Linked DNA regions of Homo sapiens. The protein of the gene in region 2 purifies or fractionates together with the protein of the main gene of each other region. This does not show direct contact. Each region holds a gene or a part of one and is shown on either strand. Other genes may lie near its edges.

The links.
Region 1: the proteins of SAR1B (region 2) and CARHSP1 purify together in Homo sapiens (affinity purification with mass spectrometry; one large-scale study listed by BioGRID and IntAct). This does not show direct contact.

What each region holds. Positions count from the first base shown.
Region 1 is NC_000016.10:8,852,447-8,855,726, forward strand, and holds the end of CARHSP1 (calcium-regulated heat-stable protein 1), read right to left. Parts: intron 2,881-3,280; coding exon 2,718-2,880; 3' UTR 501-2,717; downstream 1-500. UniProt on the Homo sapiens protein: Binds mRNA and regulates the stability of target mRNA. Binds single-stranded DNA (in vitro).
Region 2 is NC_000005.10:134,619,329-134,622,828, forward strand, and holds part of SAR1B (small COPII coat GTPase SAR1B), read right to left. Parts: intron 1,725-3,500; coding exon 1,605-1,724; intron 1-1,604. UniProt on the Homo sapiens protein: Small GTPase that cycles between an active GTP-bound and an inactive GDP-bound state and mainly functions in vesicle-mediated endoplasmic reticulum (ER) to Golgi transport.

The DNA of each region.
Region 1 (3,280 bases), on a different chromosome or scaffold from region 2:
AGCCAGGCATGGTGGCATATGCCTATAGTCCCAGCTACTCAGGTGGCTGAAGGAGGATCACTTGAGCCCACAAGGTTAAGGCTGCAGGGCAACAAAGCGAGACCTTGTCTCAAAAACACAAACAAAAAACACTTCTATAGCAGGAATGAGCCAGGGACTGTGGACAGTGTGCCCCGAGGCCCGTCCTCTCTTCCCACAGCTGATGGGGATGAGGTGTAACTCACACATCCTAAAAGCTTCAACAGGGCACTGGAGCGCCGCTGACCAAGTTACTGGCATTTTCTATTGCCAGGAAGCCGCATTCTCCTCTCTGCTAAGCTTTCTCATGCTAGAGAATGATGACTAAAAAACAGATGATCCCATCTTCTTATTCACCATCCCCTAAAAAAAACAGACTGCCACGTGGAATGTGTCAGCCTCACCTGGGGGAGACACCCTTATCTGACGACTTAAAAGGAAAAACTTGGTGAGCCAGCCTCCACACAAACACACGCATAGCCTTGCACAAAACAAAAATTTATTGGGAGAAAGATGGCTGATGGGAGGCAAGATCTGGATTCAGGAATCCTCAATTTTAGCTCTCGCTCTGTCACCAAAACCCTCCGTCCCTCCCAGAGCCTCGAGGAGTTTCCCCTTGTGTAAACCGGTATCGCGTCCCTTCCAGCTCTGACATCCTGCGGTTCTAGAATACCCATTGATTGAAAGAGCTGTGGCCAAACAGGAAGGACAGAGTAAGAGCCGCTGACAAAGGATTCTGCCAAGACAGAATCCCAGGGTCACAGGAGAGAGGCTTGGGGCAGTGAAAGCCCTCTCGGGTCTTGGCTGTGGAAGTGTGGACTGTACCAGCAGATGGGCCCTTGGGAAGCCAACAGGGAACAATTCAAGGCTGGAGAGAAAAGGCCACCTTTGACCCAGCAGAAGGCAGAGGCGGGAGAGGAGGGTGAGGATGTACAAGGAGCATCGCAGGCGAGGAAACAATGGCCAGGACCTAACTGTGGTGGGAACTGCCTTTGTCTCCACACACTCGCAATCAACATGCGTATTTGCTATTCTCAAACAACTCCCTTCCACCCCCTTAGGCTGAAAGGACAAACTCATCAGAGTTGAGGAGTACCTACCTGATGAAGCTGTTCATGCTTCCAGCATCAAACTGGACGTTTACTGTCTGCCCAAAAGCCAGTTTCCAAAAGGTTTGCTTGCCTCTGTTCAGTGGATTCTTGACTACATATAGGTCATATATTTCAAAAAATAATGCCTAGCTATTTCTACTTTGAAATCATGACTAAAGCCAAACCACAACCACAGCAAAGATAACCTAAGGATTTGTTTACCAGAAATACCTACAAAAAAGTTTGCAGGCCGGGCGCGATGGCTCACACTTGTAATCCCAGCACTTTGAGAGGCCGAGATGGGCAGATCATCTGAGGTCAGGGGTTCAAGACCATCCTGCCCAACATGATGAAACCTGGTCTCTACTAAAAATACAAAAATTAACCGGGTGTGGTGGCGCATGCCTGTAATCCCAGCTACTCAGGAGACTGAGGCGGAATTGCCAGAACCCTGGAGGGCAGAGGTTGCAGTAAGCTGAGATCGGGCCACTGCACTCCAGCCTGGGTGACAGAATGAGACTCAGTCTCCCACCCTGCCAAAAAGTTTGCAATGTCGGCAGCAAAGTGCAAACAGAGCCGGCTCTGGGTGAAAGCTTTAGTTATGAAAAATAAGAAAAAAAAAATCCCTAAGCATTTCTTAACACTAGTTTTAAAGAAAACCCCCTCTCCAAAGGTATGTTTCTCCTTCAACTTTCTTGACTTTGCCAGGCTGTCAGGATGCAAGCTACCTACTCTTTTCTGGATGGATCGGGACAAAGTTTTTAAACAAAGACTGTGTCCTCTCCACAAGCCCTTCCCACCACCACCACCCCAGCCCCCCGCCGCCATAATTACAGGGGCTGTGAAATGGCTGTTGAGTGATGGTCACACAACCAGAAGGCAGATGAAAAGGTCAGGCTCTAAGAGGGGTTCAGCCTCCCAGTACCAGCCTGCTGTGCCCAGGGGTGGGAGTGCTGGGAGAACTGTCTTCCCCAGACAGGCAGCTATGCCGCCTCCCACTGCAAAGGCACCAAAAGGCAACATCCGTCCAATCCAAAGACCGCCACCCCCGCCTTTCCCCACCCACTTCAAGCCAGCTCCCCTAGAACCAACCAAGCCAAGAATTAGAAAACTGCTTTGCCCAGGCCCCAGGAGAGGCGCAAGGGGCACTTAGGTGGAAATTTGCCTTGGAGAAGTCACGCAAGGTCCCTGTCAGGCTGCCAGGGGGCCAGATCTGGGAATCTGGGGCCTCCAGCTCCAGGAGGAAGAGGGATTCTGTGGGTTGAGCCCATGTGTCTGAGCAGCTGGAGAAATACCACCCTTGATCCACTCCCTGGGATGGGGTTGGAACCTCCACTCAGCCACCAGTGGGCACCTCTCCTTTTTAAATGCTTTTAATGCTCTTCAGATGGTGAGAGGTTGTTGCAATGGTCATAGGCTGTGCTGATGGCCGGGAACACCCCACACCCCACACCTGCCCCCCATACCCCTTCCTCCAGGAGATACTTGAGAGGGACCATGCCCGGCTGAAGCCCCGTCTCGTGTGGAAGAATGTCATCTCCAGTGTCTGCTGCCTCCTCCCTGCAAAGTCTCCCACAAGCACAGGACAAGGGGTGCTTCCACCATCTCCTAGGAGCTGATGACATGTCCAGACCAGGTCTCATGCTTGGTGCCTGGTGCCAGGTGAGTGATGACGACCTCCACGGCCTGCAGCTTCTCATTCTTGGGTGGGATGGAGCACATTTTATAGGTGACCTCGTCGCCTTCCACTGGGACATACTCCCCTTCCACACTACGGGGGCATAAATAAAGCAGTCAGGGCTCACACCGGGACACAGCTCCCTTCCCCAAGACACCAGCCACCCTTCTGGTCACACAGCCACCAAAGCAGGCACCATCTGACCAACCACCGGGAACCTCTTTCCAAAGAACTGCCCCTCCACCAGAGGGAGCTGCCACACTGCCCCCAGCCTCTGTCCTAGGCAAGGAGGCCCTGGCCCAATCAGCTCCTTCCCTGGGACTTTTGATGCTGGAACTGAAAGAGTTCAGCCACCTGTGGGTGCTCACATGGTGACATGAAATGTGGGAGGGAGCCTGGGCTTGTGACTGAAGAGTAAAGACAGCCAGTCCAAGCCAGAGAGCCAGAGAGAAACAAGGCCATCATGGAGTGAGAATCCGAGTTGAGGGGTGGC
Region 2 (3,500 bases):
TCAAAAAAAAAAAAACTTTCAATTTTTTTGGTATTTTTTGTTTCTTTAGAGACAGGGTCTCACTCTGTTGCCCAGGTTAGGAGTGCAGTGGTGCAATCATAGCTCAGTGAAGCCTTGAACACCTAGGGTCAAGTGATCCTCCTGCCTCAGCCTCCCAAGTACCTAGGACTACAGGTGTATGCCACCATGCCAGACTAATTTTTTGTTTTTGTTTTTGTAGAGATGGAGTCTCAGTATGTTGCCCAGGCTGGTCTTAAACTCCTGGGCTCAAGTGATTCTCCTGCCTCAGCCTCCCAAAGTGCTGGGATTACAGACATGAGCCACCACACCCACCCTTGTTTTAAAACTTCCTGTGTGTCAATATATGCCTTGTTTTCTTTAGATTAATTCTGTGGTGTACATTAGATATTGTTGAGGTTATTAAGACTAGAAAAATAACTGGTTAACAAATTGAGTTACCAGCCATGTATAAAATTGTAATGTATCTACTGAATTAGTGCTTAAAATAGTACATGGTGCAATGGCTCCTATCTTTAATCCCAACACTTTGGGAGGCAGAGGCAGGAGGATCACTTGCACCTGGGAGTTTAAATGGTGCGCTATGATCATACCACGGCACTCCAACCTACATGACAGAGCAAGACCCTGTCTCTACACAAATAAAATAAAGTAATATGGCTTTAAAATCTGAAAGAAGCCTGGGCGCGGTGGCTCACACCTGTAATCCCAGCACTTTGGGAGGCCGAGGAAGGCGGATCACAAGGTCAGGAGATCAAGACCATCCTGGCTAACACGGAGAAACCCCGTCTCTACCGAAAATACAAAAAATTAGCCGGGCGTGGTGGTGGGTGCCTGTAGTCCCAGCTACTCGGGAGGCTGAGGCAGGAGAATGGCGTGAACCCGGGAGGTGGAGCTTACAGTGAGCGGAGGTCGTGCCACTGCACTCCAGCCTGGGCGACAGAGTGAGACTCCACCTCAAAAAAAAAAAAATCTGAAAGAAAAAATTCAGGTTATGTAAACAAGGCGATGGTGGACTATTTACCAATCATGTCACAATCCCTCAGACAAAAACTTTTTAATTCCTCAAGCTAGAGAAGGGAGTACTAGCTGATAAAAAGGTATGAGTACTAATTCAAGATCTAAATATTCTCCCTGGGAGCGAGGTCACCTATAATTTATTATTTTAGGAACAGGTCAAATCACCTGATCATAATTTATCTACCAGAAAATGCCCCCCAAACAAAAAACTTGGCCAGGTGCAGTGGCTCACGCCTGTAATCCCAATACTTTCGGAGGCTGAGAGAGGCTGATCACTTGAGCTCAGGAGTTCAAGACCACCCTGGGAAACATATCGAAACCTGGTCTCTGAAAAAATATAAAAATTAACTGGGCATGGTGGCACATGCCTGTGGTCCCAGCTACTTGGGAGACGGGAGGATGGCTTAAGCCCAGGAGACAGAGGTTGCAGTGAACTGTGATCATACCACTGCATTGCAGCCTGGGCAACAGAGAAAGACCCTGTCTGAAACAAAACACTTTTGGTTAGTGCATATGACTCAGCATCATTTGATCAAGTATCACATTGTATGTAGGAATATACTTACTGGGATGTAATGTTGGGACATGTTGTCCAAGTCTGTCATCTTTTAGCATGTGTAGCAATGTTGTTTTTCCTGCATTATCCAATCCAAGAAATACCAGTTTACCAGTTTTCTTATATAATCCTGCAAAGCAAGAGCTATGATTGGTCAAAGTGATATCTGATACTAATTATCCAAATGAATTTAAATTTGGCCCAATTAAGCTTGAAGTTCTAAACCTATTTTCAGTTTTAAAAAAGCTATTTTAAATCTATTCATGGCCGGGCACGGTGGCTCACACCTGTAGTCCCAGCACTTTGGGAGGCCGAGGTGGGCGGATCACCTGAGGTAAGGAGTTTGACACCAGCCTGGCCAACACGGTGAAACCCCGTCTCTACTGAAAATACAAAAATTAGCCAGGTGTGGTGGCGCATGCCTGTAATCCCAGCTACTTGGGAAGCTGAGGCAGGAGAATCACTGGAACCCAGGAAGCAGAAGTTGCGGTGGTGAGCTGAGATCATGCCATTGTACTCCAGCCTGGGCGACAAAGTGAGACTCTGTCTCAAAAAATAAATAAATAAATAAATAAATAAATAAATAAATAAATCTATTCATGATTTGGGACTTCAGATAATTATAAAACCAAACTTCAACCCAGTCAATAGAATATGTGTTTTGCCTTAACATATCTACAATGCCAAAATGCTGATTAATTTTAGAAGTATCAATCAGGTATTGATTGATAGATAAATTGATAAATAGAAAAAAGGCAGCATTGACCAATTTATAATAGACTGGAATTGAACTGCTAAATTTCATATTGAACTTAATTAATTGATTTATTTAGAGACAGTGTCTTACTCTGTTGCCCAGGCTGGAGTGCTGTGGCATGATTACAGCTTGCTGCAGCCTCAACTTCCTGGGCTCAAGTGATCCTCCCACCTCAGCCTCCTGAGTAGCTGAGACTACTGGTGTGCACCACCACGCCTGACTAATTTTTGTATTTTTTGGTAGAGATGGGGTTTCACCATGTTGGCCAGGCTGGCCTCAAGTGATCTGCCCACCTTGCCCTCCCAAGGTGCTGGGATTATCAGCGTGAGCCACACGCCCAGCCAAACTTTATTTTTTACATGTTTAATGGTCTAACCTCCACAAAATTACATGTGAGCCACCACACCTGACTGAAATAAACAAACTTTTAAAGACATTAGGCAATTATAGTTTCAGGCCATCCGTTTTTGAATAGATTCATACTAAAATAACACTTACTCCTTTGTCCATGCTTAAGTCTAAGAAGTAAATTGTTTGATGTCCTAATCTTTTAGTTTTGGGGGCAGAACTATATATATATTTTATCATTAAGGAATCTACTTCTATGACTGTCACTACTATGAGTGTCACGAAAAAGTAATTTGCCCAAGATTACATAATTTAAAAGTAATTGAACATATTTGTTCAATCGAGTAATTGAACATATTTGTATAATTACAAAGCCCATATTCTTTTTTTTTTTTTTTTTTGAGACGGAGTCTCGCTCTGTCACCCAGGATGGAGTGCAATGGCATGATCTCGGCTCACTACAACCTCCGCCTCCTGGGTTCAAGCGATTCTCCTGCCTCAGCCTCCCAAGTAGCTGGGACTACAGGCGCGTGCCACCATGCCTGTCTAATTTTTTGTATTTTTAGTAGAGACGGGGTTTCACCGTGTTAGCCAGGATGGTCTTGATCTCCTGACCTCATGATCTGCCTGCCTCGGCCTCCAAAAGTGCTGGGATTACAGGCGTGAGCCACCGCGCCCGGCCTTAACTATTCTTAACTATTGCTTCATATATAAAGAGGCTCAACACAAATAAGCACTATTATATAAATAAAATTAAAGGAGATAACTATAGAGAACAAAGGACCAATATTACCTAGAAAC